Linked DNA regions of Homo sapiens. The protein of the gene in region 3 interacts with the protein of the main gene of each other region in a pairwise test. Each region holds a gene or a part of one and is shown on either strand. Other genes may lie near its edges.

Region 1 (6,328 bases), about 150 Mb from region 3:
GGTGTGACTACTGAGGTCACTAGTGATTCTGCCCTTCCTAGCCATGTGGCCTCAGGCAAGTCACTGCCCACCCCCCAGCATCAGCCTAAAATCAGAAAATATCTACAGCCATGGGCTGGTACGCCTCGTGGGCCTGAGAGAGCAGGAGTTGCTCAGAAAGAACAGGAGCTGGATCTGAACAGATGGGGCAGGGCAGGGGGCAGGGATGCACCTGTGAAGACAGAAGGTGGGTGATCCGGCCACCCCCTTCCTCTCCTCACTAGTGACCTGGATGAGGAGAAGGGGCCTCAGCAGAGGAAGCACGGGCAGCAGCCCTTACCTGAAGCCCATCAGCCTGTCAGCATTCTCACCAGCCCTGAGCCCCACAGACCACCTGAGACATCCTCCGCCACTAAAGGAGCCCCCACTCCAGCTTCAGAACCCTCAGTCCCTCTCTCACCTCCCTCTCTTCCTGATCCTTCCCACCCACCCCCCAAATAAACCAAAAGTGGACACAAGTGTGAATCTTAAATTATTATTATTTCTTCCTGTCGCTTACACCCGAGGTGGGGGAGTTGGGGTGGGGGGAAGGGAATAGGAGGGGGGGAGTGCCTCTCCCCCTAAGGCACTGACTGGGAAAGCCGAAAGTAGGGAGAAGGGAGGCCACATTGTCCCCACTTTCTGGGGCTGGGCCCCAGGTCTCCCCAGCCCTGGGCTCCCCCCATCACCTGAAATGCTAAGATGAGGCCCAGGACAACCCGATCTCCCCGCCACCCCAATATATTACATCATCACTTTTTAAATAGATAACAGGGACTGGTCCCGCTACCCCCTCCCTGTGACCCCTCCCCACTGTTAGGGGTACCTGGGCAGCTGTGCAAATGGGCATGGGGGTGCATGGAAGGGAGGAAGAGCACCGGGCCCCTGAACCTGCCCCTTTTAAGGAGGGGGAGGAGCCGTCAGGCCAGGAAGGGGAAATAGTGCAAGGCAGAGCCCAGGCTGCAAAAGGGGTCCAGCACCCAGCGAGGAAGGGGGGGTGTCCCCCACCCCCAGCAGAATTGGGTAGTTAAAAATCTGAAACTAGATTTCAACAAGACCAACAGAAGAGGCTATGTACAGAATGGGGGTGGATTCAATCCTAAGAGCAGAGTGGGGATTATTCTCCCCTGCCTGACAGGAAGCCCGGCTGGCAAGGATCTGGGAAGGGGATCACTTTCCCACAGGTCCGCAGCCCCTTCCCCTGCGGCCAAGCGAGAAGTTCTGTGCCCACTGCCTTGGCAAGGGGGCGCCGCTCACCAGCTGGGGTGGATGAGGAGCGTGAAGACAGCTCGCTCCAGTGGCCGCGGGGGGCGCTCGCCCACTCAGAGCATGGCCGCCAGATGGCGCCGGCTCGCCCGCTCTCCACAAGGCTCTTCCAACCCCTTACCCTGTCCCACACCCTTCGCTGCGCCAGCCCGGGGGCGGCGTGAGTCAGGGGCGGCAGCGGTGGCGGCGGCTCCGGCTCGCACCTGGGCGGGGAGGAGATGGGGAGGAGGAGAAGAGGGTAGGACGCCGCCCGGCCCGCCCTGCCCTCTGGCCCCGGGGAGGGAGCGGCGGGAACAAGACATTCCCTGCCCAGGGCCGTGGGGAGGGAGGGCTAGGGAGGGGAGTGGAACGGAGCGGCTCCCCTAGCTGGGCGGGGCCCCTCTACTGCCCCCAGGGGCAGGCGAGCCAATCAGGCCACCCCGCCCCCTTCTCCACGACCCCATGACTCAGCGCCGGGAGCAGGGCGGAGGGGGACTGGGATGGCTCCTTCCTTACAGGCCCAGTCCCCCAGTCTTTCAAGCTTCCACCTGGCTTTCCCCCACCTACCCTTCCTTTGCCGGCCCCCTTTGCATAATTCACTGCCAGGAAAAAGGAACAGAAACCAGGAAGGAGGGGTCTCGAAAGGGAGGGGCAGTCCTTCACCCCCTTACACAGCCAAAACCCCCAAGGGGCATAGGGGCGGGGCAAGGCTTTGGTCCCAAGCCCCCACCCCCTAGAAACCCGCATAGCCGAAGTGGGACCCACAAATTAGAAATACATTATTGCTTCTACTCCCCAGGAGCAGCTGGGGACAGGGACCCCACTTTTACAATACAGCTGTAAATATATACACAATATATGTATCACTCCTTGGGGGATCACCCCAATTTGGGGAGCCTCTGCCCCAATACCTTCTTAGCTTGGAATTGGAATGAGGGCTCTGGGAGGAAGGGCTGATGCTGATGCCAGCAAGGCTCCGTGCCCCAGACCCCTGCTGTGTCTGTCCTGCGTGCTCCCACTGCTTGGCATGGGTGTCCCCGGCCTTGTGCTGCTTCAGTCTGGCCCTCGTCCCTCTTTAAGAGGACTCCATGGCACCTTCAGCCTGGGGTGTGGTGGGTGCCCCTTCCTCCTCATCGTCATCAGGGGGCCCTGGGGTAGAGACCGGGGGCCCAGTGGGGGCTGACTGCTCCCAGAATCGAGCTAGAGAGAGGCGGAAGGTGTCCAGGTGGCCATTGGAGAGGTCGAGGCCAGCGGGGGATGCAGCAGCGGTAGAGGGTGGTGGGTAGTGGGGTGGTGCATCGTCCTTGCGGCGCCGTCGGGTGCGCACCTCCAGGCAGTTCTGGCCTTTGAGGTGGCGCTGCAGGTGGTCCTCCTTGGCGAAAGCCTTGTGGCACAGGTGGCACTCATAGGGCCGGTCCCCTGTGTGCAGGTGCATGTGGTTCTTGAGGTCGTAGCTGTGCAGGAAGCGGGCTGGGCAGTGCGGGCATGAGTAGGGGCGCTCTCCCGTGTGCTTCCGCATGTGGATCTTCAGCTTGTCGTTCCTGGCACAGGCAGGGGTGAGGGGCAGGGAGGTGTTCAGGATGGGATCCCTGGCTCCTCCTGGTCATCCCACCCTGGCCTTGTCCCATCCCTGTTCCTCACCATTTGTTACCCCACTATTGCCCCAGGAGATACCCTGCTAGCTCACCTCTAGCTTAACTAGGCCTTGTCATTATCCACTCCTCTGCTTCCAGCACTGCCCTCCTGGGCACCGAATCCTCCATGCTCCAGATCCACCCCCTGCTGGCTTGTTTTCTTCTGCTCTCCTCACTCCAGTAACCCACCCATGCCCCAGTCCCTCCAGGACCACCTACCACCACCTCGGGTCTCCTAACTTCTTCCCCATCTCCTCCCACCCTGTCCCCTACCCATGGCCCCTGCCGGGCCCTTCCCCCCTTGCTGCTCACCTGGTGAATCGAACACCGCAGACCTCGCAGGCAAAGGGCTTCTCGCCTGTGTGGGTCCTCATGTGGCGAGGCAGTTTGCCTGCCCCATGGATGATCTTGTGGCAGACAGGGCACTCCTGAGGCATCTGGGAGCGGCGTTTGCGCACCAGCTTGTCTTGGCTGTCCAGGCCTGGTGCCAGGTTGTCCTGGTGCAGGGAGCTTAGGTAGGCCATCAGGTCAGGATCGATGGCATCCTCATCTGAGCCCAGCTCCTCTGGGGACAGCGGGGGCCCGCCACCCTGCGCCAGCCCATAGGCTGGGGGATATACCAGCTCCTCTTCTTCTTCCTCACCCTCATAGGGTTCGTAGCTCTGGGGACCCTCAGGAGGGGAGGCAGTTCCTGTGGGAGGGCTGTAGCTGTCCCCCGGCCCACTGCCCCCACTGCTGCCCACTCTGCCCGCCACCTCCTCCTCCTCATAGGTCAAGGGATGGGCGGGCACTGTGGGCACCTCAGGGACTAGGTGGTTTGCTCTGGCCCCCTTGGTTTGCAGGAAAGCTTTCCGGGGCTTGCGGCTGCGGCGGGCAACAGGCCGAGGTGGCGGTGGCGGAGGTGGTGGGAGGGGCACCTGTGGAGGACTGTCTTCACCATTGGGAACTCCAGAGGCCGTGGCTGTGGCAAAGGCCTCCAGATACTGGCGGGCTCGCTCACAGTCATCCTCGTCCGGGCTGGGAGCTTCTAGCCCACTGCCCTGCAGAATCTCCATGCAAGCAGCGATGACACACGGGATCTCCAGCAGGCGGGCAGCCTGGAGCACAGCTGGCATGTTGGCGCTGCTGGTGGTCAGTGTGGCTGTATAGGCAAATTCAAGGAGGGCGCCTAGTGCCTCTGGCCCTACAAAGTCCAGCTCACACACACCGGCCCCTGCTCCCCCAGTGGCCGTCCCGCTACCCCCGGCCCCCATGACAGCTCCGCCACCGCCCTCAGTGAAAAGCTTCTTGAAGTAGTGGCTACAGGCAGCTAGCACAGCCCTGTGGGTGCGGTATTCAAGGCCCTGCGTCCGGATGGTGAGGTCACATAGGTGGCCCAGCTGGCGCTGCTCATTGAGGCAGCTCAGGAGCTCACTGCTGTGGTCCGGGAATGGAATCCCAATCAGGTCATCCTCGGGGCTCCCCATCTTCTCCTGCAGAGTCAAGTAGAGGGGAGATTAAGAGCGCTCAGCCCACAGGGGTCTGGGGAAAGAGGACCAACTTTAGCCAATACTTATTGAGGGATGACTGCATGCCAGTCACCCTTCTGAGTACTTTACACTCATTTCATCTTCCAGAACCCTCTGAAGTATGATCATCATCTGTTTCACAGACAAGGAAACTGAGGTTCAGACAGGTGAAGTGATTTTCCAAGTTAAGTGCAGAACAGTGTTCAAACTCAGGGAGTGGGCCCGGTCCTTGTTCCTAACCACTATACTATTCTACTCTGCCTCTGTGGCAGCAGGAGCCCTGCCTTTCTGGCCCTTTCATGGAGGTCCATCTATGTCACCTGCCCCATTCCCCATCTCTTTGGAAGGAGCAGTGGACTGGGAGATAGGATGCCTGGGTCCCGGTTCAGGCTTCATAAAGAATTGGCTGAAGGACCGGGGGTGGTACTGGCAGCTGGCCTCAGTCATTTGAAAAGTGAGGTAACAGTCTTTGTAATGAACCTCCTCATAACCTGGGGAGAGGCCAATGAGAGAGTTCAGACTCACACTGGACCAAGATCTGCTGGAGGCCAGGCACAGACAGGTGCTTTAACTCAAGTTATCGCTCTCCAAAGCGGTTAGGACACTGTAAAACATATGCAAACAAGAGAAGGCAGCTTCCAAGCATCATCCTCTTCCTCCTCTTGCCCCTCCCCTGGCTACCAAAAGTTCATCTCCCCTTCTAGATCCCCCACTTCTCCAGGCCAAACGGGAAACACAGCTCCCAGCATCCCTCCCCCCACATCCTCCCCTCCCCCATGGGGCCAAGGAGCAGCCACCCTTTGCTGGGGTGTCACTGGCTGGCGCGGGTGCTTCCTGCCCCGCACAGATAAGCATCGCCCCCGCCCCCTCCCCCACTGCCAATAGGCCAAGTTCCAGTCCCACCCCCCACCTCCCCCTCAGCTACTGCCACCCCTCCCTCCCTATTCCAGGAGAGCCCCGTCTCCAGAAGGCCTTGGTCCTGCTCTCTATCCTTTACCCTCCAAGGCCCAGCCACAGGAGGTGGGTGCAGAGCAGCCAGGAGGTGGGTGCAGAGCACCAAGGCTGGCAGAGGTGTCGGCAGGGGTTGGGGCCTGGAAGGGGGTGAGACCTGCTTTAAATCCTGGCTCTGCTACTGTCTTGCTGAATGACCTTGGGAAAGTCATTTCTCTCTGTGCTTCCATTTCCTCAGCTGTGCAAGGAGGGGGTGGAAGTAGTGGCCCCAATGGCTCAGACCTTCAGCCCTGACATTTTGTGGGTCTGGAGCAACTGGAGACAGTGCTGGGGCTTGGAAAGAACTGGGCTCTGGAGTCAGCCAGGCTTGAGTTTGAATCCTGTCTCTGCCACCAGTTAGCTCCATGACCTTAAACAAGTGATTTAATCTCTGAGCCGCCTTCCTCATCTGTAACATAGGATAATTCCACCTGACTCCTAGGGTTGTGGTGAGGGTTAAATGAGACCAAATATGGCACAATGCCTGATATGCAGTAGGGATTCGATAAATGTTCTGGCCTTGGCCTAGCCTGGGGTCAGATTCCACTATACAGATGGCCTCTGTTAAGAAAACTACTTGGGGACAGGTCTGCCTCCCTCCCTCAAATCACCCTGAGGGAACCAAGCTACTACTAGCTACATGACTTTGGACAAGTCACTTCCTTTCCTGAGGAAGCCTGTTCCTCATATGTAATATTAAAGACTGGCCCAGATGATCCCTAAGGCAAGTCCCACTGACATTTTGTCAGTGTCCCCTCTGCCACTCCAGCAGCTGTTCAGACCTGGCCATTGATGGGGAAAGGTTTTTTTTTTTTTTGGGTGGGGGGGTGAATGGGGGAGTCAAGCCACAAATTTCCTCTTTAGGACACAAGAAGTGCATTCTCTGTGTCTGCCTCCCTGCCTGCCCTCTTCATTGCAAGGCCAGGGCTCCTG
Region 2 (7,106 bases), on a different chromosome or scaffold from region 3:
CCACACGTTACAGGTAAAGAGCTGAGGCTCAGAGAGGTTCTACCCCTCACCCAGGTCACACAGCACATCCTGGCAGAGATGGCATTCAGGCCTACCTGAGCCCATCCCTCAGCACAGCACCACCCTGACTGTGTGCAAGGCGCCCTGCCGGCTTTCAGCTCTGGGTCAGGATGCCGTTACGGAGGGCCATGCGCTGCGGCAGGACTCCATCTGGGCTCCGGCAGAAGCATCCCTTTCTGTGGTTTTAGGATATCGTGTGGGGACACTTCTGAGGCTGAACTGTAGACGCAGCTGCGGGCGCCTCTTAAGGGCCAAAAGACTCTTTTGTGCTTCTGCATGGATTGAGATTTTGGCAAGGAACACATAGTACTTTTGTTGAAAGGAAGAACCAGAAAGAGAAGTAGATGGCAGATTGAAAGCCTCTTCTTGAAAGGGCCTTTGATCGTGCCTGCCACAGGACACGTGTCCCCTCCCTGATGCAATGTAACCTCGTGGTTCATTCCTCTGATCTTGGAGCCTGACACTTTGCCTTGGGGAGTCCCTCCTGAGCCCTCCCTTCCCTGCACATGAGTGGAGAGAGCCGGGATCCTCTTCCCAGATGTGTGACATGAGGCTGGCTCTGGCTGCTACGTGACCCCTGCCTCCTGGGGATCAGAGCCTGGGCTGAGGGCTGCTTCTAACAACCAGGTCAGGGACTGCTGGGGCTGATTTGGGCTCGGAACCCAAGTCCTTCTCCAATGCCCAGCACCACCCGAGCACCCGCTAGCTGCTGGGGTCTGCTGCCACCACCACGTTCTGACCTCCCAGTGCACCCCCTGTGTGAGCACACAGATCTCAGTGGGGCTCACTGGGCGCCTCTGCCCGAGCCCCTGCTGCCTTGGCTTCCTGCTGTGCTGGTGGCCCAGTCACAGAGTGGTCAGGATAAAATGGTCATTGCTGGGATTTGAGACCCAGGCAGCCTGCAGGGGCAGCTTAGACTGAGTCATGACCAGGTCTGTGGGAAGGTGAGAGCAGGCAGTGAGGGTATGTGGGGGCTGGCACAGGGACTGAGGGAGCAGGGGGAGCCAGAGGAAGGGTAGAGCATGCAGGCAGTCTGGCCTGTGGGTAGCGTGGCTTGGGGCAGGACTCGGGTGAGTCCTCTTTTGGCATCACACTCCCTCATCCTTCCGCCACCCCCCTGCCCACCTCCACTGGTCTCATCTGTAGGGAGAAAGGTGGCTCGGGCTTAATGTGGTACTGCCTCTCTGTCCCTCCCGTGCTGAGCTTGCAGCAGAGGCAGGAGATTCAGAGCCGGAGCCGGGGAGTTGCATGGACCCAGGTGCATACCTGGCTCTGACACTTTCTAGCTGTGTGTCCTGGTAGGTGTCCTTTAGCCTCTCCAGTCCTCACTGTTATCCTCAGAAGAATGGGGTTAGGACAGACTGCCATGGGAGGCCGCTGTGGGGGTGAGCAACTCTTCTGCAGGGGGCGCCCATGAGGTCCTCCTAGATGGAGGCTGGCGCTCTCATCAGCCACAGGGCGCTGGAGACTGGTTCCTCCTGCCTCCAGGGGAGCCCTGTTGATGCAGCCCCTGGTTCTAGGACACCCAAGAGTTCCTTCGCTGCCTGATGGACCAGCTGCACGAGGAGCTCAAGGAGCCGGTGGTGGCCACGGTGGCGCTGACGGAGGCTCGGGACTCAGATTCGAGTGACACGGATGAGAAACGGGAGGGTGACCGGAGCCCATCAGAAGATGAGTTCTTGTCCTGTGACTCGAGCAGTGACCGGGGTGAGGGTGACGGGCAGGGGCGTGGCGGGGGCAGCTCGCAGGCCGAGACGGAGCTGCTGATCCCAGATGAGGCGGGCCGAGCCATCTCTGAGAAGGAGCGGATGAAGGACCGCAAGTTCTCCTGGGGCCAGCAGCGTACAAACTCGGAGCAAGTGGACGAGGACGCTGATGTGGACACTGCCATGGCTGCCCTTGACGACCAGCCCGCGGAGGCCCAGCCCCCGTCACCACGGTCCTCCAGCCCCTGCCGGACGCCAGGTATCAGCTGGCCGGGGACTGCGGGAGGAACCTCAGCCTATGGCCCAGTACCTACCGGGTGCTGAGCGCCGACCTGCAGTAGCCCCCGGGGGACGGGTTCTTCACTAGACCCGAATGACAGTGGGGAAGTCAGCCTCCGGGGGGGCTCAGTGATGTGCCCAGGGTCCCCTAGCTCATAATGCTGGAGCCCAATTCAGAGCCCTCTCCCAGAGCCCTGAGCCTTCCAGCCGGACATGGATTGGACAGGTCTGCTCCGGCCTGTGTGCTGGGGCCAGGAGTGGGCACATGACAGAGGAGACACATTAGGGTCAGGCTTTCGTCCCTTTAGGAGGGGCTGGCAGGTCATCTTCCTGCCCACTCGTGGAGCTGGCCTGGCTGCCCTGGCCCAGCATGGTACCCTCTCTGCCCCCAGAGCCGGACAATGATGCTCACCTACGCAGCTCCTCTCGCCCCTGCAGCCCCGTCCACCACCACGAGGGCCATGCCAAGCTGTCTAGCAGCCCCCCTCGTGCAAGCCCCGTGAGGATGGCACCGTCGTACGTGCTCAAGAAAGGTTCGGGGGGCACGGGAGGGTGGGTCAGCTTGAGGCTGGGAGTACAGATTACGCCCGTAGCTGCCTTTCTCATGGCCCCCTGTGGCGGAGGGCCGGGCTATGGGCTCCTCTCAGGTACACCCCTGAGACACCAGTGTGGGAGCCACGTTTTGCAGAGGATGACACAGAGGCATGAGATGGTGAATTGCTTACCCAGTCATGTGACTCACGGATGTCACTCCACATCCTGTCAAAGGAAGCCGCAGGGCCCGCACCTCGCCCCGGCCAGGCAGGTGGAGGCTGGGCTAGTCCTGTGCTGTGTCCCCAGCCCAGGTATTGAGTGCTGGCAGCCGGAGGCGGAAGGAGCAGCGCTACCGCAGCGTCATCTCAGACATCTTTGACGGCTCCATTCTCAGCCTTGTGCAGTGTCTCACCTGTGACCGGGTGGGTGCCCCAGGGATGGGGGGAGCTGGGCCAGGCTGCCAGTGGCCTCAGCAGCTCTTGCCCTGACTGGGTGCAGGGTGGGCTCTCCACGGGTGCTCCCTGCTTTTATCCAGGGGAGGGCCCTGCCTGCGTGGATCCCGTGTCTATGGCCTGGGGAGTAGTCCCTCTGCCCCTCACCTGCTGCTTGGGGTTTGGGGTGCAGACATTGCCAGAGGATGGGCAGCAGACTGACCTTCAACCCCACAGGTATCCACCACAGTGGAAACGTTCCAGGACTTATCACTGCCCATTCCTGGAAAGGAGGACCTGGCCAAGCTCCATTCAGCCATCTACCAGAATGTGCCGGCCAAGCCAGGCGCCTGTGGGGACAGCTATGCCGCCCAGGGCTGGCTGGCCTTCATTGTGGAGTACATCCGACGGTGCGCCCACCTTGCCACTACTGGGCGACATGGGCTGGGCCTGTCCTGGTTTTCCTGGGCGGGAGACAGTACACAGTGAAGTCCATGCATTTGGGGAACCAGGGAGGTCCTGGGAGGAGCTGGGGGCCGAAGCCTGCAGAGGAGTTGGCTTAATATGCAGGGGATTTCTTGGCTACTTTGAAGTGGCCAGGATTGGATAGTCCCTTGGAGCTGGAGGGCGATGGACAGCAGGGAGGTGACCACATGGCAGGTTGAAGGGAGGGCAGCAGCAGGACACAGGCCTGGTTGGCGGGAAGGGCAGCAGCTTTCCCAGGGCTGCCTCTCCTGCCTGAGGCCAGAGACCCGCATGACCCCAGGGAGGGGGTAGCATGATCATGGCCGCAACACAGATGAAGGAGGCCAGGCTTGCGGAGAGATGATGTCACTCGGCCCAGGACACGGACGTGTCTGGCTCCAGGCCTCTGCCCCGACCCGCCGTGCCCGGCTGCTTCTCTGGGCCTTCAGGGTCCTTCTGCGGCTCAGGCCTGACAGACCTCAGCCAGAGTCCCTTCAGCTCCTGTTCTTGCCCAGGCCCTGGCAGCACCCCTGCACTCCTTTTCTGTCTGTAGGTTTGTGGTATCCTGTACCCCCAGCTGGTTTTGGGGGCCTGTCGTCACCCTGGAAGACTGCCTTGCTGCCTTCTTTGCCGCTGATGAGTTAAAGGGTGAGGGGCCTGGCTGGCAAGGGTCGGGGAGGTGGAGGGTTGTGGGGACGGGGATGTGCAGACCCCAGCAGGCCAGCATGCAGCCCAGGGCTTGTGGGATGCACAGCCAGGCTAGACTTGGCTTCCAAGGTTGATCCCATCAGATACCCACGCCCACTGCCAGCCACGCTGGACCAGGGCCATGTGCTATCCCAACCCCATCATCTTGCAGCTCTTGAGTGTTCACTTATTTTTATTTTTACCAATTTGGTGGGCAAAAATGATGTATGTTAATTTTTCATTTCCTTGATTACTGATGAGTTTCTACATTTTTTGTTAAATATACTGGCTCTATGTATTTATTTAAACATTGCCCATTCCTGTTCTTGTTCTTTTTCTCCGTTGGCTATTTGGCATCTAAACCTTTGGGAAAACTCTCTCTTTTTTTTTTATTTCCAATTTTCAATTGCGATAAAATACACAAAATGTAAAATTTACCACCATAACCATTGTAAATGCTGTTTTTAACAGAAAGTGCACAGTCGAGTAGTGTTAAATACATGCACATGGTCACGCAGCCATCCTCCCCATTCATCTCCAGAACTTTTACATCTTGCAAACCTGAAACTCAGTATCCGTGAAACAGCTCCCTACTCCCACCTCCCAGCCCCTGGCAACCTCCACATTCAAGTCTGTGAATGTGACTACTCTAAAGGCCTCATAGAAGTGGAATTATACAGTACTTGCCATTTTGTGACTGACGGCTTTTACTGAGCATAACGTCCTTAGGGTTCATCCACGTTGCAGCGTGTGTGTCGGAATGCCCTGCCTTTTGTATGCTGGTTATTTATTGTTCCATTGTGTGGATGGCTGGGGCCTTTCTGCTTATTCGTTCATCCGTCAGTGGACACTCAGGCCGCTTCCCTGTTAGCTATTGTGAGGAATGCTGCTCTGACCATGGGTGTGCACACCTCTCTTCTTTCATCCCTTTGGGTCTATGCCTATTTTTAATTTCTCGAGGAGCCACCGTACTGGGTTCCACAGTGGCCACCCCATTTCACATTCCCACCAGTGACGCACAAGAGTTCCAGTTTCTCCACATCGTCGTCCACACTCATTTTGTTTACTTTTTTGATGGGAGTCAACCTCATGGGTATGAGGTGGTATCTCATTGTGCGTTTTTTTTGTTTTGTTTTGTTTTGTTTTTGAGACGGAGTCTCTCTCTTGACGCCCAGGCTGGAGTGCAATGGCATGATCTCGGCTTATTGCAACCTCCACCTCCTGGGTTTAAGCGATTCTCCTGCCTCAGCCTCCCGAGTAGCTGGGATTACAGGCACATGCCACCACGGCTGGCTAATTTTTGTATTTTTAGTAGAATGGGGTTTCACCATGTTGGCCAGGCTGGTCTTGAACTCCTGACCTCAGGTGATCCGCCTGCCTTGGTCTCCCAAAGTGCTGGGATTACCGGCGTGAGCCACCGCACCCAGCCTCGTTGTGGTTTTGATTTGCATTTCCTAATGATAGTGATGTTAAGTGTCTTTTCATATGCTTGTTGGCCATTTGTAAGTGTTTGGAAAAACATCTATGTGAGTCTTTTGCCTATTTTGTTTTTTGTTGCTTGTTATAGGGATTCTTTTTTTTCTTGAGACAGAGTCTCACTCTGTCACCCAGGCTGGAGTGCAATGGCATGATCTTGGCTCACTGCAGCCTCCGCCTCCTGGGTGCAAGCAGTCCTCCCATCTCAGCCTCCCGAGTAGCTGGGATTATAGGCACGTGCCACCACACCTGGCTAATTTTTGTATTGTTAGTAGAGATGGGGTTTTGCCATGTTGGCCAGGTTGGTCTCGAACTCCTGACCTCAAATGGATTTGCTGCCTTGGCCTCCCAAAGTGCTGGGATTACAGGTGTGAGCCACGGTGCCGGCCTCGTTAGTTAGAGGAGTTCTTTATGTGTCCAGATACGTGACTTATAACCCTGTCCTCCCATCCTGTAGGGTGCGTTTCATTCTGTGGTTTGTGTCTTTTGCTTTGGTTGCCTGCACCTTTGGTGTTGTGTTTCAGAGATCATCGCCAGATCCAATGTCATGAAACTTTTTTCCTACTTTTCTCCTAAAAGTTTTATAGTTTTAGGTCTTATATTGAGATCTTTGATCCCATTTTGACTTAATTTTCACAGTGTGCATGGAGGGGGAAACTATACATTAAGATTTTAAGCTGGTCATGGTGGCATGTACCTGTGACCCCAGCTACTCCGGAGGCTGAGGGTCCTCTGAGCCTAGGACTTTGGGACCAGCCTGGGCAACATAGCAAGACCCTATCTCAAAAAAATTGTTTCAAATACATTTTCTGTAATTAATGTTGCACTTCCCACCCCACCTCCATTTTGCCTTTTGCCTTTTAATTTTGCTTTTGGTGGTATCTTACAGATGTTGAAGTATTTCTGGGGTCAAATATAACCATTTCTCCCTTGTATGGATTCTGGCTGTGGGGCCCAGCCAGGGCCTTCCCTCCCTCCAGTACCTCTCAGGTTTTATTTCTTTTTCTTTTTCTTCTTCTTTTTTTTTTTTTTTTTTTGAGATGGAGTTTTACTCTGTCACCCAGGCTGGAGTGCAGTGGCATCAGCTCACTGCAGCCTCTGCCCCGAGCCCCCCAGGTTCGAGCGATTCTCCCACCTCAGCCTCCTGAGTAGCTGGGATTACAGGCACGCACCACCACGTCCAGCTAATTTTTGTATTTTTAGTAGAGATGGGGTTTCGCCATGTTGGCCAGGCTGGCCTCGAACTCCTGACCTCAGGGGATCCGCCCGCCTCGGCCTCCCAAAGTGCTAGGATTACACGCATGAGCCACCATGCCCAGCCAGGTTTTATTTCTTAAGCAGAAATCATTATAGTCACTTTTTTTTGCTCCCTCATTTTGCATCCTTGCTAACCTCTGACCCTTTGTTTTACTGCCCTAGGTGACAACATGTACAGCTGTGAGCGGTGTAAGAAGTAAGTGAGCCTTCC
Region 3 (7,106 bases):
TGTAGTCCCAGCTACTCAGGAGGCTGAGGCAGGAGAATGGCATGAACCCGGGAGGTGGAGCTTGCAATGAGCTGAGATCGCACCACTGCACTCCAGCCTGGACGACAGAGCGAGACTCCATCTCAAAAAAAAGAACTGCAGACAGGCCCTTTGCATCACACTGAACTCTAGGTCTGATGACGTGTATCATCTATGGCCCCACACTATAACACCTTCATCAGATGACAAGCTACCTGGGCAGCAGGATAAACAAAAGCATTTCAGACAACCTGTCATACTCCCTGCTAATCAACAGAAAGGCCAGGTGCCTATGCTCCTAGCACTCTGGGACGCTGAGGCAGGACAATCACTTGAGGCCAGGAAATTCAAGAGCAGCCCGGCCAACATAGCAAGACCCAGACTCAACTAAAAAGATAAAGAATTAGCTAAGCACAGCTGGGCACGGTGGCTCACGCCTGTAATCCCAGCACTTTGGGAGGCTGAGGTGGGCAGATCACGAGGTCAGGAGATCGAGACCATCCTGGCTAACCTGGTGAAACCCCGTCTCTACTAAAAATTCAAAAAATTAGCCAGGCGTGGTGGCGGCCACCTGCAGTCCCAGCTACTCAGGAGGCTGAGGCAGGAGAATGGTGTGAACTCAGGAGGCGGAGCTTGCAGTGAGAGGAAATTGCGCCACTGCACTCCAGCCTGGGCTGGAGCAAGACTCTGTCTCAAACAAAAAGAATTAGCCAAGCATGGTGGCATGTGCCTGTAGTCCTAGCTATGCAGAAAGCTGAGGTGGGAGGATCACTTGAATCCAGGAGTTGGAAGCTGCAGTGAGCTGCGATCACACCACCATACTCCAGCCTGGGTGACAGAGACCCTGTCTCAAAAAAAAAAAAAAAAAAAATGTCTGGAAGGAGCACATACCCCAGAATGGAGGCGGGGGAGAGTCACCAGTCTTTGCCTTTGTGGGGAGTGGATTCCTGCACTCTAACAGACTCACCCAGCTTGGGGGCAGGAGAGAACCCCGAGGTACCATCCAGCACCTGTGTGCCCCCAGGCAACAGGCCCCGGGCTTGGGCCTTTGCCTCTTCGATAGCGTGCTTTCTTTTTTCCACTTCACCCTCCAGGTGTGTGAGATCAACCTGCAAAAGCCAGAAGGTGTCCGTTCAGAACCAGGTGTTTCTGGCCAAACACAAACGCATACGTTACATGAAAAAATGCCGAAGAACCTTTTTCCGAGCATAAAGCTGCAAGATCTTTAAGCAGATTTCCTGAATTTCTTCTTCAGTTGCTCCAAACAAAAGAAACCAATGGGGACGATTGGGCAAAGGGATCTGTAAAAACAAACACTATCATCATTACACTTTCCTCAACTTCACGGCCAGCAAGACTCAGGACAATTAAAAAACAGCCTGTTGGTCACGAAAATGCTTTGGCCCAGATTAGAGTAATTTGAAGAATAACACAGTAAAGTTTACTGGAGGCTGGAGAAAAAAAAATCAGACTAGAATCTCTCCATAGTAGCAACACACTGACCTCCAGCGTCCGGGCAGCAAGATAAATGCAGGCACAGGCGATGCTCTCTGGCTGGAACCGCACGAAGACGTCGGTGCGAAGGCTGTCGTTCATGTAATTCCTGGAAGCCAAACACAGGAAGAACTGCAATGCCCCACCCGGGAACCCAGGTCTTCCGCCTGCATTATCTAGAGAAAATCTAGATAAACGTACTACTCCTCTAAGGAGTCTATTGCTAGGACTCAGAGCTAGACAGTCCTGTGAATCTCAAGAGTTAATGGAGAAATATTCTAGCTGCTTTTTCTAAATACAGTAAATACAGGACAGAAAGGCACAGAAATTATTAGAAAAAAAAAAAGCTGGCTGAATGTCAGACAATACGTGTTGCTATGAAAGAGAACCGACTTTAACTTTACTTTTCCCCTCAACCTTGGCCTGCTCTCATGCAAAGCACGATGCCTCAGAAAGAAAATGTCTACTGGAGTCACTAAAACGCTTTTGATTAAAGAAATCTAAATGCTCAAAATCCATAGTGCAGAGAAACATGCAAACTCAAATGAACTGGCTGAGCACAAAGCCGGTGTGGCTGCTGGGAGACAAGCCATCCTCTTGGGTTCCTCTTCCTCTTCCTCCAGGGCGCTGGCGGCAGGCCCCTTCTCTGCTGACCGAGCTGCAGCTTCCTTGAAGGAGTCCACTTGGAAGAGGGAAAAGCCCCTTGGGTGCAAGTTGGACGCGTGGGAGCATCGTGCGGAGGGAGACTCCGCACCCAAGGGCAGGCCTCTTCTCGGGCTCATCAGAGCCGCTGCCAACTGTCCCATTTCAACAAGGGGTCTTAAAATGAACATTCATAGAATCAGAAGCAACACAATACTGAGAAGCAACATGATACTGAGAAGCAACATAATACTGAACATTTCATCACAGTACATTCTTTAACTTTCATATTTAGAAGCTATAAACATACAAAAATTTACATTTTTTAAAAGTTAAAGCATTTAAAACCTGGCTACATTTTGAGCATTTCCTTTAGATCTCTAAGATTTAATAGACTAAAACCAGACCTTACACTAGCTTTATGAATACTGCAAAAACAGAAAGGGTGATTCCATGAGGACAGTTGAACTGGTTTTATATTTACTGCTCCTCACATACCCCAATAACGGGGAGCCTTGGAGTGGGGCTGCACCCGCAGACGAGGTGGGTTGTGAGGGAATCTGACCCATGACCTTCCAGCAATATCTCTGTCCTAAATAAACCTTGGAGAAGGTAACATACAAACCCACTCAAGAGATTTCTAAATGGGAAGTCCTACAGGTGCCTCTTGGAGACACCCGGCTCTGGAAGCAGCTCCAGGCATCACGGGGGAATCTGTGTGGCGGCCGTGTGGCCCCAGCCCCTGATGCAAGCGTGCCAGTGCACAGCTCTAACACAGATACATTCAACAATCAGTAACCTTTCGGTGTCTAATCAACAACTGTCAGTATTCAAGTAGTGATATTAATCCACGAACTTAAAATTCTTAAAAACAAATGAAATCTTGAGAACATATAAACTTATTGCTGTATTTGAAGTGATACAATATTTTTCAAAGTATCCATGAAATAATTTAAAGATGCACACCTTTTACCAGAGCGTGTCATGCAAAGCTGCTCAAAAGAGCAACTTCAGGGCTTCTAGAAATCATGACATAACCCCACACTGACACAGCCAATTTGTCTCTTCAATTCTCACAGCTTTCCATAGCATTTTTTTTTAAGAGAAAGGTACTGCATCTTTATCATACAGGTACAGCAGTTTTAAAGGGACAAAATTCAAGTCAAGACAGTTACCAACTCTAATCAATACGATTACCAAAGCACGACAGAGGATTAACAAGAAGCACAATCGTCAGAGAACCACAGCAGGAGTCGGCCATGGCTATGCTATGTGCGTACCACCAGTCTAGAGCCAGCCTTCGGTGGAGAGCCTGCACTGGATTGGCTGAAGATGCCGCTGTCCCTGCACCAAAGCGCTTGGACAGCAGAGGAGAAGTCTTAGTCACTTACCCTCAGAGGCTACCCTTTGATTGAAAGAGTACAGAAAAGAAAAGTCAAAATAGGTTCTCTATTAAACATGTCATAGCACCAGACAATTCAGTCAGCAAAAATATGACCCTTACAGACTTAACTCCATGGGAAAAAATTCACCAGAATCCCCAGAATCCCCCAAATACTACATTGCACTTTAGGGTTCCTTTCTAGCACATGCATTGCTAAAATCGGCCCCAGAACCTTCTCTGCCCCTCTCCCATGGGATGCAATGTCAGTGGAGAAACAGACCAAGTCTGCACTAGCCTGTCCCTCCACCCTCCCCAGGAAAAGGTCCCCCTGCGCCAAGTCAACAGCTCCCAGAGGAAGCCCACTGACTGCTCTCTTCAGGGTGGGGGACACAGGAAGTCCAGGCTTGCAGGGAGGGGACGGGCCACCTACCGTGACTGCCAGTGCCCATTTTGGGAGTCTGATTGGAATTTATACAGCAGGAGCACTGGGCACTCGGACAACTCCAGCCCACAACCAAGTCACTGGGCTGCCTACCCACTGCCCAAGTGCCTCAAGTCAACACATTCCTGCACTGCCCTTGCTGGTCTCATAAAACAAGGAAGCTCAACTCACCATGAGGTCTGGACCAGGTGTTGGTTACGCTCACACTCTAACACCTGAAGGTACATAACGATTATCTGGAAGATACGGGTCAGGCAGTTATTACCAAGAACCTTAAGAGCCCAGAATTCAGATCTTGTGGGTGTCCATGCAGCAAACAAGAGCCTCAAGCTAGATCCCAGGAGTGGCTCCTGGCCACACGTCTGGCGGACGGCTCAGCTGGAGGGAGCTTTGCGATTGCACCTGCTGTCTGCCTTGGCAGCCAGGCAGGACGCATGCCCGTGAGCCCAGCCACACAACCCACGGCACAGGCCTCGTTCTTCATGGGGCTGGTTTCATTCTAGTCTTCAATGCCTTTCCACCAGTGAGGTTGGCCTGTCCTACACGTCTCTGTATCCCAGTTAACAACTCACCAAAACACAATATGAACATACTTTCAGCAAACAGAGAAGAACACTTCAGGCCAGGCACACTGGCTCATGCCTATAATCCCAGCACTTTGGGAGGCTGAGGCGGGCAGATCACCTGAGGTCAGGAGTTCGAGAACAGCCTGACCAATATGGAGAAACCCAGTCTCTACTAAAAATACAAAATTAGTCAGGCATGGTGGTGCACGCCTGTAATCCCAGGTACTCAGGAGGCTGAGGCAGGAGAATCGCTTGAAACCAGGAGGCGGAGGCTGCATGAGCTGAGGTTGCGCCATTGCACTCCAGCCTGGACAACAGAGCGAGATTCCGTCTCCAAAAAAAAAAAAAAAGCACTTCAATCTGTGGTGGGCAATTTGTGGATAATTTGAACAGATGGCAGAAAGCCGAACAAGCAGATGAGGAAACCCACCAATAAAAAGGAGATGGAACCAAAGATGGAAACAATTTTTTGGGAAAACAAGTGCTTTGTTTCCATGTGACACAGAAGGCACCCACAACGCTGGGAGTGAGGGACCGTGTCACGGCCATGGTCCTCAGTCAGTACATGCCGCAAAACTCGCCAGTCATTTCAGACTAAAGGGGCCAGAATTCCCCTAATTTCTCCATAAGAGAAAGTAAAGCTATCACTAAAGCAAATGTAGAAAATTAACTGTTGAGGCTGGGTGCAGTGGCTCACACTTGTAATCCCAGAACTTTGGGAGGCCGAGGCAGGTGCATCACCTGAGATCAGGAGTTTGAGACCAGCCCGGCCAACATGACGAAACCCCATCTCTACTAAAGATACAAAAATTACCCAGGTGTGGTGGCGCATGCCTGTAATCCCAGCTACTTGGGAGGCTGAGGCACAAGAATCACTTGAACCTGGGAGGCAGAGGTTGCAGTGAGCCAAGATTGCACCACTGCACTCCAGCCTGCATGACAGAGTAAGACTCCGTCTCAAGAAAAAAAAAAAAAAAAAAAAAAAAGGCCAGGCACAGTGGCTTATGCCTGTAATCCCAGCACTTTGGGAGGCCAAGGTGGGAGGATCACGAGGGCAAGAGATGAAGACCATTCTGGCCAACATGGTGAAACCCCGTCTCTACTAAAAATACAAAAATCAGCTCGGCGTGGTGGCACGTGCCTGTAGTGCCAGCTACTCAGGAGGCTGAGGCAGGAGAATGGCTTGAAGCCGGGAGGTGGAGGTTGTGCCTCCACTGCCACTGCCACCATGCCACTGCACTCCAGCCTGGCGATAGAGCGAAACTCCATCTCAAAAAAAAAGAAAACAAAAAAAAATTAACTGTAGAGAAAGGAAAACATAAACTAAAATTCAACATTTATAAACTCACCACTATTTTTGAAAGCCCAAACTTAAATAATACCATTTCCAAAACACTTAAAAATGTGTTACTAAAATAAACAGCTGACACTAGAAGACGAATACGTCAGGAACTATTCTTGAGATTATAAATAGAAACTGGAAAGCCAAGTCAGGGATGCACTCAGTCCTCTTCAGAGCCTTCAACTGCACTGAGGTGGAGAGAGGCGGCCAGGCAGGAGCAGCGGCCTAGGCGGGCTCGCAGGGCAGGAGCCGCACACCCACCTTATGAGGATGCTTCACATGGACGCAGAAACCCAACTCTTTGAGAACTCGTCTTTCCGCCTTTATAATTTGGTTCTTTAAATTAACATAATCTTGATCCAGTAGTAGAGGCACGGGCTTCCTGCCAGAGAGAGAGCACAGGGTCTGCACCACAGTCAAGCAGAGCAAGGCTTCTGAGATCCCGTCGTTACCTCCAACTATGAGCACCTAACACAAACCCCACAACACAACATCGCTATGAAGTCCACATCCTCTGATGAACAAAACTGCACACCGCTCCCCACAGCCCAGTGCCAACCTCCTCATCCCTTCCCAACGATCCCTCCCTGCTTTTCCTTATAGATCAACAGCTTCTGGTGCACAAGCATAGACCGAACATAGCAAGTTTTAGGATCTCGTGGCACAAATGCTAAAGCACTTTATGTGACTCACGATAGGAAGGTACATATTCACAGTTCAATAACCACAGAACCAATGAAAGCACAATTATTTAAATACAGATGGGCCAGGTGCAGTGGCTCTGCCTGTAATCCCAGCACTTTGGGAGGCGAGGCAGGCAGACTGCCTGAGCTCAGGAGTTCAAGACCAGTCTGACCAACATGGTGAAACCCTGTCTCTACTAAAAAAATGCAAAAATTAGCCGGGCGTGGTGGCGGGTGCTTGTAATCCCAGCTACTCAGGAGGCTGAGGCAGGAGATTCACTTGAACCCAGGAGGCGGAGGTTTCAGTGAGCCGAGATCGCATCACTGCACTCCAGCCTGGGTGACACGGTGAGACACAGTGAGAGTCCGTCTCAGAAAAAAAAAAAAAAAAAAAGGGCTGGGTGCAGTGGCTCACACCTGTAACCCCAGCACTTTGGGAGGCCGATGAGGCCATGTTTTTTCTTTTTTTGAGATGGAGTCTCACTCTGTTGCCCAGGCTGGAGTGCAGTGGCGCGCTCTTGGCTCACTATAACCT

The links.
Region 1: the proteins of CCNL2 (region 3) and ZBTB7B interact in binary tests that used the Homo sapiens proteins (3 or more experiments, as listed by UniProt).
Region 2: the proteins of CCNL2 (region 3) and USP20 interact in binary tests that used the Homo sapiens proteins (3 or more experiments, as listed by UniProt).

Annotation. Positions count from the first base shown.
Region 1 is NC_000001.11:155,012,696-155,019,023, reverse strand, and holds the end of ZBTB7B (zinc finger and BTB domain-containing protein 7B), read right to left. Parts: intron 5,010-6,328; exon of another isoform or gene 4,931-5,009; intron 4,419-4,930; exon of another isoform or gene 4,370-4,418; coding exon of another isoform or gene 4,364-4,369; coding exon 3,210-4,363; intron 2,805-3,209; coding exon 2,339-2,804; 3' UTR 501-2,338; downstream 1-500. Other genes in the region: DCST2 (DC-STAMP domain-containing protein 2), read left to right, coding at 264-480. UniProt on the Homo sapiens protein: Transcription regulator that acts as a key regulator of lineage commitment of immature T-cell precursors. Exerts distinct biological functions in the mammary epithelial cells and T cells in a tissue-specific manner.
Region 2 is NC_000009.12:129,866,425-129,873,530, forward strand, and holds part of USP20 (ubiquitin carboxyl-terminal hydrolase 20), read left to right. Parts: intron 1-1,580; coding exon 1,581-2,025; intron 2,026-2,437; coding exon 2,438-2,578; intron 2,579-2,885; coding exon 2,886-3,001; intron 3,002-3,180; exon of another isoform or gene 3,181-3,247; coding exon 3,248-3,420; intron 3,421-4,028; coding exon 4,029-4,123; intron 4,124-7,057; coding exon 7,058-7,091; intron 7,092-7,106.
Region 3 is NC_000001.11:1,389,245-1,396,350, forward strand, and holds part of CCNL2 (cyclin-L2), read right to left. Parts: intron 6,294-7,106; coding exon of another isoform or gene 6,271-6,293; coding exon 6,150-6,270; intron 4,217-6,149; coding exon 4,152-4,216; intron 3,561-4,151; exon of another isoform or gene 3,560-3,560; coding exon of another isoform or gene 3,538-3,559; exon of another isoform or gene 2,346-3,537; coding exon of another isoform or gene 2,053-2,345; exon of another isoform or gene 1,622-2,052; coding exon 1,522-1,621; intron 1,320-1,521; coding exon 1,215-1,319; intron 1,128-1,214; coding exon 986-1,127; intron 1-985. UniProt on the Homo sapiens protein: Involved in pre-mRNA splicing. May induce cell death, possibly by acting on the transcription and RNA processing of apoptosis-related factors.